2 linked regions of the Homo sapiens genome follow. The protein of the gene in region 2 purifies or fractionates together with the protein of the main gene of each other region. This does not show direct contact. Each region holds a gene or a part of one and is shown on either strand. Other genes may lie near its edges.

What was found. The genes of interacting proteins can lie anywhere in the genome.
Region 1: the proteins of POPDC2 (region 2) and SLC12A7 purify together in Homo sapiens (affinity purification with mass spectrometry; 2 studies listed by BioGRID and IntAct, with this or other methods). This does not show direct contact.

Annotation. Positions count from the first base shown.
Region 1 is NC_000005.10:1,073,673-1,078,609, reverse strand, and holds part of SLC12A7 (solute carrier family 12 member 7), read left to right. Parts: intron 1-602; coding exon 603-777; intron 778-1,797; coding exon 1,798-1,916; intron 1,917-2,373; coding exon 2,374-2,472; intron 2,473-3,119; coding exon 3,120-3,239; intron 3,240-3,938; coding exon 3,939-4,043; intron 4,044-4,808; coding exon 4,809-4,937. UniProt on the Homo sapiens protein: Mediates electroneutral potassium-chloride cotransport when activated by cell swelling. May mediate K(+) uptake into Deiters' cells in the cochlea and contribute to K(+) recycling in the inner ear.
Region 2 is NC_000003.12:119,653,359-119,658,295, reverse strand, and holds part of POPDC2 (popeye domain-containing protein 2), read left to right. Parts: intron 1-3,682; coding exon 3,683-3,791; intron 3,792-4,937. UniProt on the Homo sapiens protein: Important for the maintenance of cardiac function.

The DNA.
Region 1 (4,937 bases), on a different chromosome or scaffold from region 2:
GACTTCATGTCCGCGTGCAGAGCTGAAGGCGTCCTGGTCCCAGGGTTGGGATCCCTTGGTCTGATGTGTCGTCTCTTCCGCTGGAGCCTAGGGCCTGGGGAACCGTTCAGAGCCAACTCCAAGCCCTGATGCGGCTGGGGGCGCAGGCCCTTCCTGGGGAGGCCACAGGGGTGTGGACGGGTGAGGCTTGGCCCTGGGAGATCCCTCAGCCCTGCTGGCAAGTGGAGAAGTAGTGGGGTCCCAGGCAGGTCATCACTGACCCTGCATCCTCATGGGGTGTGCGTGTCTGGCAGCCCCAAGGCCCCGGGGGTCCTGGGTGGTCCCTGACTGAAGCTGATGCCAGGCTGGGTCTTCCCTGCTCCCAAGAGCGACCCTGAGGTGAGCAGGACCCCCTCCCCCGCTGAAGACCCTCCAGAGCATTCTGGCCATGCTGGGCAGAGCCTGGTGGAGGTTTCAGCCAACGGGGACTGGAGGCCGGGCCTCAGCTTTCCAAGGAGTCGCCCCCACTGCACTGGGCCCCTCGCTCTGGGTGGGAGAAGACATTTTGTCTGACTCAGGCTCACTTCTGAAAGCCGCCCGCCCGCCTGCCCGCCTGCCTGCAGGTTCGGGGAGGCCCTGCAGGGGAACCTGGTCATCGGCATGCTGGCCTGGCCCTCCCCCTGGGTCATCGTCATCGGCTCCTTCTTCTCCACCTGCGGTGCCGGCCTGCAGAGCCTCACGGGGGCACCGCGCCTACTGCAGGCCATTGCCCGTGACGGCATCGTCCCCTTCCTGCAGGTGAGTCCCGCACCCTCGTCGGGGGGACCCTGGAAGGTCAGGGTCGGGGGCTCTCCTCCCCTGCGGGATCCTCACAGTGCCGTGTGTGGGACGCATGCCCGCGGCTTGGACCCCATGGTGGTCATTCTGCCCCTGGCCACTGCACAGAGCATGGGAGTGGTGGGAGGTGGGTGGTGGGCAGAGGCAATTCTAGCCCTCCTGCCTGCAGGTCCCTCCGAGCTCGGCCCCGGGTGTGTCAGGAGCGGCTGTGAGGGCCCACAGCCACGTGTCCAGAGGTGCCTGGTCTGTTGTCTGGTCAGAAGCCCTCTGCCTGCCTGCCACATCTTTCTCTGTGTGGCTGAGCTCTTCAGCCCGTGGGAGGTGGCGTCACCAGCCACCTGCAGCCAGTGTGTGTGGCTGCTCTGAGGATTGCACGGACGCCCGCATGGGTCCTGTCCGTGTGCTGTGCCCAGAGCTGCCGATTGTGGCTCCTCCTGCTACCTGGGCCCAGGGGCAGCTGTGGGAAGGTCGTGGATGGCAGAGCCATCCTTGCCCGTCGCTGGTCCCTCGGCAGGGTGCCGACCCGCAGGGCCTTTGTGTGGTTGCATCTTCAGTCCCAGCCGGGCCTAGGGCATGGTGTCCAGGAAGGGGACAGGCACACAGGCCCCGTGGGCCTCAGCTTCTGGGAGGTGAGGGTGGCCTGATGAGAAAGGTCACCACAGGGTCTGGGGAACCGCGAGTGCCCTGGAGACGCTGGTCCTGTGTTGTGTGGTCGGGGAAACTGAGGCGGGGGGGCAGGCTGGGGCCACACAGGTTGCAGGCAAGCCGGGCGTAGGCACAGCTCTGAAGCCTCCTGGGCTGCAGCCCTTTGTCAGGGCTTCTTCCCAGGCCAGCCGCGTGATGTCCCGGGGACCTACTGTGAAAGGCGTTTCTGCTGGTCTGTGTCTTTAAGATTCATCTGGGCTAGACCTGACCAGCCTGCAGCTTCTCTCCTAAAAGGGTGGTGTCATCTGCCCCATCTTCCTGCCCTTCTCCCTGCAGGTGTTTGGCCACGGGAAGGCCAACGGGGAGCCCACGTGGGCGCTGCTGCTGACAGTCCTCATCTGCGAGACTGGCATCCTCATCGCCTCTCTGGACAGCGTGGCCCCGATCCTCTCCATGTGAGCCCCCACAGGACGGGGACCTGGGGATGGGTGTATGGGCCTGGAGCGTGGGGCAGTGTGGATGGGAGGTCCTGCTCAGGACAAGCAGTAGACAGGCATGGCCAGCTGTGGGCAGTCAGGATCCTGCCGGGAAGGGAGTTGCGCCGGGGAAGACAAGTACACAGGCCTCCAGGCAGCCGCCCGCTGGGGTCAGCCAGGGACAGTGTGGCTGGACAGACGGCTGCTGGGGAAGGGACGATGGCCCATCTCTTGATGGACCAGGTGGTCACAGGATGGCTGGAACCTGAGGGGGCCTGATTCGGAATCAGTCTGAGTCAGCTCACGTGCAGAGACAGACATGGGGAGACAAGGCGCAGGTGGGAGGGACAGTGACAAGGGTGGTCTCCCAGGTGGCAGTGACTGGGGGCTCAGGGGGGCCCAGTGGGCCCGTATCAGTGGCCGGCCGTCCCTGCAGGTTCTTCCTCATGTGCTACCTGTTCGTGAACCTGGCCTGCGCCGTGCAGACCCTGCTACGTACCCCCAACTGGCGTCCACGCTTCAAGTTCTACCACTGGTGAGGCCACTCAGCACGGGCGTGAGGAGCCCCACAGGCTGGGACACTGGGTGCCTCTGCCACTGGTGAGGCCGCTCAGCACAGGCGTCAGGAGCCCCACAGGCTGGGACACTGGGTGCCTCTACAAGGCCAGCTGCTCTGGGCCTGAAGACCCCAGCGCGTCCTTGACTGTTCCTTTGCGGAGTAAGCCCCTGCGCAGCTGATGAGACTGCACCTGAGGAAGGCCTCTGGTTACGAGGATGCCCAGGTGTCTGCATGTGCCTTGTACCTCCCGTGGTCAGCCCAGCCTTCCCAGGCTTGGGGCGTAGCCCATCAGGGCTGTGGGTCTTCTTAACTCCCCTCCCCAGGAATCAGGCGCTGGGTGGACGCTTCAGCCCCTTGTTGCATGCACAGCCGAGGTGCTGTGTGCACGCTGGGAGCTGGAGCTATGTACTGGGTTTTGGAGTGACAGCTCCCACAGGGGCCCAGGGAGCCACGTCACCCCTCAGAGGTGGTTGAGTACAGCCATGGTCGTCAGGCGTCAGTGACTGTTTTCCTAGTGTTAACAGAGAGTTTTACTGAGGGAGGGGCAGTGTCCGTGTGGTGGTGGCTGAGGTGTGGGGGCTGCATGGCGTTGGGCCGCCCCGAGCCACTTGCCCCGCCCCCAGGACCCTGTCCTTTCTGGGTATGAGCCTGTGCCTGGCGCTGATGTTCATCTGCTCCTGGTACTACGCGCTGTCCGCCATGCTCATCGCTGGCTGCATCTACAAGTACATCGAGTACCGCGGGTAAGCGCTGTCAGCCCCCCTTACAGACCCGGCGCACGGGAGGGCGGGCCCCTCTCATGCTATGCCTGGGGCAGCTCCCTGGAGGGGCCTCCCTGGGGCTTGAGCGTCGTGTGCCCTCACAGGGGCAGCTGGGAGCACGTCCAGGTGGGCTGTGTTGTGAAAGCTGGGGTTTCCCTCCCACTTCCAGCCAGGCCGAGGTGCCTGCACTTGTGGACAGGGTCTCCAGCCTGGAGCTCTGTCTCGTGCCGTCCTCAGCAGGCGGTGAGCCCACGGCTGACTATTCCTGCTACGTGTCTCGCGAGGTGTCCCCAGGTTGTGTCTGTACTCACTCGGCAGCCACAGGCGTCCTTCCCCGTGCCCCAGCACCCACCCTCCCTCCACCTGCACCCGCCTCGTGCCCGGGGTCCAGCCACTTCCCTGTCATGGGCCTCCTGTCCCCCGTCCTGTGAGGAAGGCACCTCACGCATGCTGGACGTAGACCTCGTTCCCTCCACAGCCACAGCACCCTCTGACCCGGTGGCTCCTAGGACGGGCTCCCTTCAGGGCAAGGGTGGGCATGGAGGCCTCCCTCCTCATCCAGGGACTTTTCCTGGGGGTCCTGTTTGCCCCAACTCACCTGCCCCCAGAAGTCCCCTTTCCCAGGTGGGAGAGGAGCCTCCAGGTACGCGGCTGGACAAACCCCGACTTCCTTTCCCACAGGGCCGAGAAGGAGTGGGGCGATGGCATCCGTGGCCTATCCCTGAACGCCGCCCGCTACGCCCTGCTGCGCGTGGAGCACGGTCCCCCCCACACCAAGAACTGGAGGTGAGCACCGCCCATGCCCCGTGGTCCTCAGACGCACAGAAGAGCTGTTTCTGAGGTCGGCCTTTGAGTGGGGACCTTTGAGTCTCAGGGGCCTCTCACCTTCAGCCGCTCAGGCAAGGTCTGGGGTGTGAACACTGCCTGGTGCAGAGCGGATGGCGCAGCTGGGGGCCGGGGGTGTCCCTGCTGCAGGGTGGGGGTGTGGGGAGCCGGCCCCTCTGCCAGCACAGCCCTGGGCTTGGGGTGGGAGAGGGTGGCTCCTGCTGAAGCAAAGGCCATCTTTGGGAAGCCTCTGCCCCTCAGGGCCTCGGCGGGGGCCTCAGGTGTGTGCCCCGGGCCATTGTCCCCTCAGGGGCCTCGGCGGGGGCCTCGGGTGTGCCCCGGGCCATTGTCCCCTCAGGGCCTCGGTGGGGGCTTCAGGTGTGTGTCCTGGGCCATTGTCTCACCTGTCTAGCATGTCACCTGTCCCACCTGTCTAACCTACCTGTTCTCCTGTCCTGCCTGGCTAGTGCCCACCTGTCCATCGGCCCTGCCTGTCCCACCTGGCTTCTGTGGCCTGTCTCACCTGTCACCTGTTCAACTTACCCCACGTGTGTCACGTTTCCCCATCCCATCTGTCACCTGCCCCTTTTGTCCCCTGTCCCGCCTGTCATGTATCTCCCGTCCCACCTGTGTCGTGTGCCCCGCCCGTCCCATCTGCCCTGCCTGTTGATGGGCCGTGCCCTGGTAAGCGTTGCCGTGGTAACAGCCGCCCCACCCTGGCTGCAGGCCCCAGGTGCTGGTGATGCTGAACCTGGACGCGGAGCAGGCCGTGAAGCACCCCCGCCTGCTGTCCTTCACGTCGCAGCTGAAGGCCGGCAAGGGCCTGACCATCGTGGGCTCGGTGCTGGAGGGGAC
Region 2 (4,937 bases):
TTCCTGCCTTTCAAGGTTTGGAGTAAGAGTTTTGTTATCTTTCAGTGTCACCCTGTCTCAGCTTTGCTGAGCTGGACATAGAGGAAAAGGCTTCTAGTCTATGACTGGGCTCTAGTTTTAAAGGAGAATCACTGAACCTTGGGCTGGTTACAGTAAGGGACCAAACATCTCAAAGCAGCAGACAAGAACTTTGTGCCAGGAAGTGGGGACTCTTGTGCAGACTTCCACATCTCACATGCACACTGTTCTCTAGAGTCCTTCACTCAAACCTCAGAAGTCTTTTTGTTTTGTTTTAATAAAGGAAACCAATCTCTTTCAAAACTCAGAGAGGGAAAGTGACTTTCTCAAAGTCTATCACCCTGTTAAGCAGCGCTTAACTTAGACGTTTCTCTCATATAAAATTCAAAACACAAACTTCCATATATACAACCCCCTGAGCAGGCAACTAACTATCTAAGCTATTCATTTAGGAGAAGATCATCCATCTTCCAGTAGATCAAGAAGGAAGAAGAAACAGATGATAAAGGGCACAGCATTCCGATTTAAATGGCTTCAGCGAGCCACGAAGATCATTAGACATTATCTACACTCTACGGTTGTCACTCTTTGGTGGCTTGCCTGGGTGGCCGAAATCCTCGCCTAAGGAGCTGACATATGCTGCAGCAGCGCCATTCTCTTCTGCTGTCTTCCTTTGCTATGGAAGCTTTTCAGTGAGGTTTTGATCCCCTTTTATGGTGACACAAGTGAGTTTGTTCCTTGGTTTCCTTTGTTCATTTATTCATCCTTACTTTCTTGCTTCCTTCTTTCCTTCTTTTCCCCCTTCCATACATATTTATTCAGAGTCTTGAATAAAGCTCCTGTCTTCCAGCTTTAGGTTGTCAGATAATAGGTGCAATTGTTTTTTTAATTGGTGCTGGTCTTTGGTAATTTGTATACACGCATGTATACCTAGGCATTCATTAAGAGCAAGGCTCAGGAGTGCTGATATCCCATTGGCCAGGACTTATCACTTGCCTATGCCTAGCAGCCAGGGAAGTAGAGAAATGTTGATTTTTTTCTCTGCAGTCATGTGTCCAGTTAAAATCTAGCACCATTAAGGAAGAGAAGAAAGCAGATACTGGAGAACAGACTGCCACACTGGATTTCCCAGGTCTTTGTTCATTCTCATCTTTATCTGCTTCTCAATACCCTTTGCATCCCTCAAAATTCAGCTCAAATGTCATCTCCTTCGAGAGGTCTGCTGCCCAAAGAGAACCAATCTTTCTCTCTCCTCTGTTACTGTTCCACAATAGCACCTATCACATTGACTTGCAGCCAGTTATTTATGTGCCTGTGACTTCCACTAAATTGTGAAATCCTCAAAGACAAAGACCAGATTGTGCCCATCTCTGCATTCCCAGATCTCCAGAAACATGAGAGATGCTCCAGAAATATTTGTTTAGCCAATAAACCTCCAGAAATAATGGAAGGATATCTCCCCCAAATGAACAAGGTGTACCTTAGAGATCTTTTTCATCTTCCCCCTTTGCCTAATAGAGGCACCCCTATTGCCTGATATAACTCACTTTAGAAGAGAGGTTAAAGATGAAACTCTGAGTTTTCTGGGCAGGGGTCGGGTTGGGGGAAGGATAAAGCCCATACTGGATTCTAATCTTCTTCCAGATGTGGCCTCACATCTGAAATACACTCCCTGTCCTCAGGCATCATCAATGACATGCCATCAGTTCTAACAAGTTCTCATGGAATGCAGTCTTTTTACCCTGCAGGGGCAGAGCACTAGGCTAGGTACAGCCACAAGGGTACAAAGGCACCAAGCAGCAATAGTAAGGCTCCTAACCCCTTAAGTTGTGAAACCAAGCCTGTGGTCATGGGCAAGTCAAGAGCAGTTAATGACTTAAGACTTAAGACTTAAGAATATTCATAAAATTAAAGCAAATAATTCGGATTTCTGGCTGCAGCCACAGTAACCCACTCTAGCCAACAGAAGGGGGAAAAAAGGTCTTTATTTAAAAAAATACAAGGATTTCTTATGAAACTCAAGGAAAGACATGCACCTAAGCCTCAGGTAGTGCTAGAAACAAGAACATGTCCTACTAGGACATTTTATGTGATTTCAAGTTTATTTTCTCTATAGCCAATTGGGACCCATGCTTTTCAAAGTCTGAGTTACGTGATAAAAAAAAATTTTTTTTAGTTCCTTCAGGGAGGAGTGTGTTAGTTTTGTTAATAATGCCTGATAATTGTCCCCATCCAAGGCATGATTTACACGCAATTCCATTTCCAAATTCCCAGGGAAGGAGTTTGATTGGCTCAGCTTGAGTCAGGTGTTCACTCTAGGACCATCAGCTGGATAGGGTGCATGGGATCTCATTGTCTAAAGAAACAAGCTGTTATTGTCACCTACGGTTAGAGAGGTCCGGGAAAGGGTCATGCTAGGAGAGTCCACTACCATCTACCCAAAGCTGTAGTAATAGGGTGGCAACATGGTGTTGTGCTAAGAACATAGAATTTTAGTTCCGCCACTTGATCGCTATGTAGCCTTAAGCTCGCCACTCAACCCTTCTGAGCACCAGTTTCCTTAGCTATAAAATACAGAAAAGAATAATCTACCTTGTGGTGTTGTGAACATTATATAAGAGAACACTGGTAAAGTGTCTAGCAGAGTCTGGCATATGGTAGACTTGCCACTTCCTTCAAAGTCTACAAAGTGGTTAAATGTAAGCATGAATCTTCATGTAGCTAATGGGAAGGGAGAAAGGAGAATCTGTGGAGCAGCGGATCCAACAGAACTTTCTGTGATGACAGAAACGTTCTAGATCTATGTTGTACAACATGGTAGTCACAGGCCATATGTGGCTATTGAACACCCATATTGTAATTAGGTAAGGAACTGAATTTTTAATTTTATTTAATTTTAATTAATGTAAATGTAAACTTAAATAGGCAGCAGCATTCTTTTCTCTTTTTTTGAGACAGAATCTTGCTCTTTTGCCCAGGCTGGAGTGCAGTGGTGTGATCTCGGCTCACTGCAACCTCCACCCCCGAGTTCAAGTGATTCTCTTGCCTCAGCCTCCCAAGTAGCTGGGATTACAGGCACCCGCCACCATACCTGGCTAATTTTTGTATTTTTAGTAGAGATGGGGGTTTCACTCTCTTGGCCAGGCTGGTCTCGAACTCCTGACCTTAGGTGATCCACCTGCCTCAGCCTCCCAAAGTGCTGGGATTACAGGTGTGAGCCACTGCGCCGGGCCAGCAGCAGAGTTCTTAAGCAGTAGTTTCTATCTTGGCTACACATTAGAATCACTGGGGAGATGTAAATACTAATAATATCCAGTTCCTACCTAGAGAGATTCTTGTTTAATTGCTCTGGGATAAGGCCCAAGCCTAGGTGCTTTTTTTTAAAAGCTTCCCTGGGACTTCTACTCTGCAGCCTGAAATTGAGAACCACCAGTAAGGAGAAGGAGGAGGAAAAATGAGGGTTCTGGAAGTCTCAATGGGTTCCTTTTCTGAACTACTTGCATGCAGTAATTAGGCTGGCTAGTCTAGCTTTGGGTTTTACCATGCTTTAGGCAAAGTATTTCTACAGGAAGATTCATGTTAATCAGCGACACCTAACTTCAGCATAGGTGGCTTGGAGAGCCATTTTCCTTTTCCCACATGATCTCTTCTCTTCCCTTGCCAGGGTTCGTGTGAGCCAGGATGGGCAGTTTCTGCACTACATCTTTCCATACCAGTTCATGGACTCTCCTGAGTGGGAATCACTACAGCCTTCTGAGGAGGGGGTGTTCCAGGTAACAGGGAGCCTGGTGGCAGCACCGCCTCACCCCATCCCACTGTAGCCCAGCAATATCCGTGCCTCCATGTTTCCCCTCTTACATCTGTCCTTCGCACCCCTGCCAGTGTGAAGCTACAGGCGGGGGCACTCTTCCTCTGAAAAGAGTTCCTGGGCTCCTAGCCATAGGTGAGGTAGGGTAGGAAGATGCTGGCCCCTGGGTAGACCATGTTACTTGTATGCTTAAACTCTTCTGGAAGACCCTAGTGCCACAACATAAAAACCCACACTTGTTATAGGGTAACTTAAACCTTTTAGTGCTCTCTAGTCGCATTTCCAGCTCTCCCTCCTTCATATTTTTTGCTCATACTAGCCATGCTGAACCACTAGTACTTCCCTAAACACACCACATTGTTTTGCAGCTCTATGCCTTGGCCCCTACTCTCCCCTCTGAAATGCATTTCCCCTTCTAGATGAGACCACGGAACCTCACTTCCACTGTGAAGCCTGCTTCCACCCCACAGCCTCACCAGCTTCCACCCCACAGCCTAGCACTCCTGTGTGCCTGTTCTAGTCCTTTTACTTATGCTAACTGGTGCACATCTTGCTGTCTGTTCTAATAATCTGGTCTCCTTTCTGTCTTCTGCACAGTGAACTCTGAAGTACAAATCTAGGCTTTTCCCTCTCTGTTCCCAGACTCTAAAGGAAAGTACCTGGAGCACAGCAGCTGTTCAGTAAAGAATTGCTTGCCGGGCGCGGTGGCTCACGCCTGTAATCCCAGCACTTTGGGAGGCTGAGGTGGGTGGATCCTGAGGTCAGGAGATCGAGACCATCCTGGCTAACACGATGAAATCCCGTCTCTACTAAAAATACAAAAAATTAGCCGGGCATGGTGGCGGGCACCTGTAGTCCCAACTACTTGGGAGGCTGAGGCAGGAGAATGGCGTGAACCCGGGAGGCGGAGCTTGCAGTGAGCCGAGATTGCGCCACTGCACTCCAGCCTGGGCGACAGAGTGAGACTCCGTCTCAAAAAAAAAAAAAAAAGAATTGCTGAACTGGTTTGCCACTGGGCAGCTGGTGTCCCAGAGGACTCCATGGGGCATTCACATACATGCTCCAATGCAGGTTCCTGGCTGCCTGGCCCCTACTCTTCTTATCTCTGCCA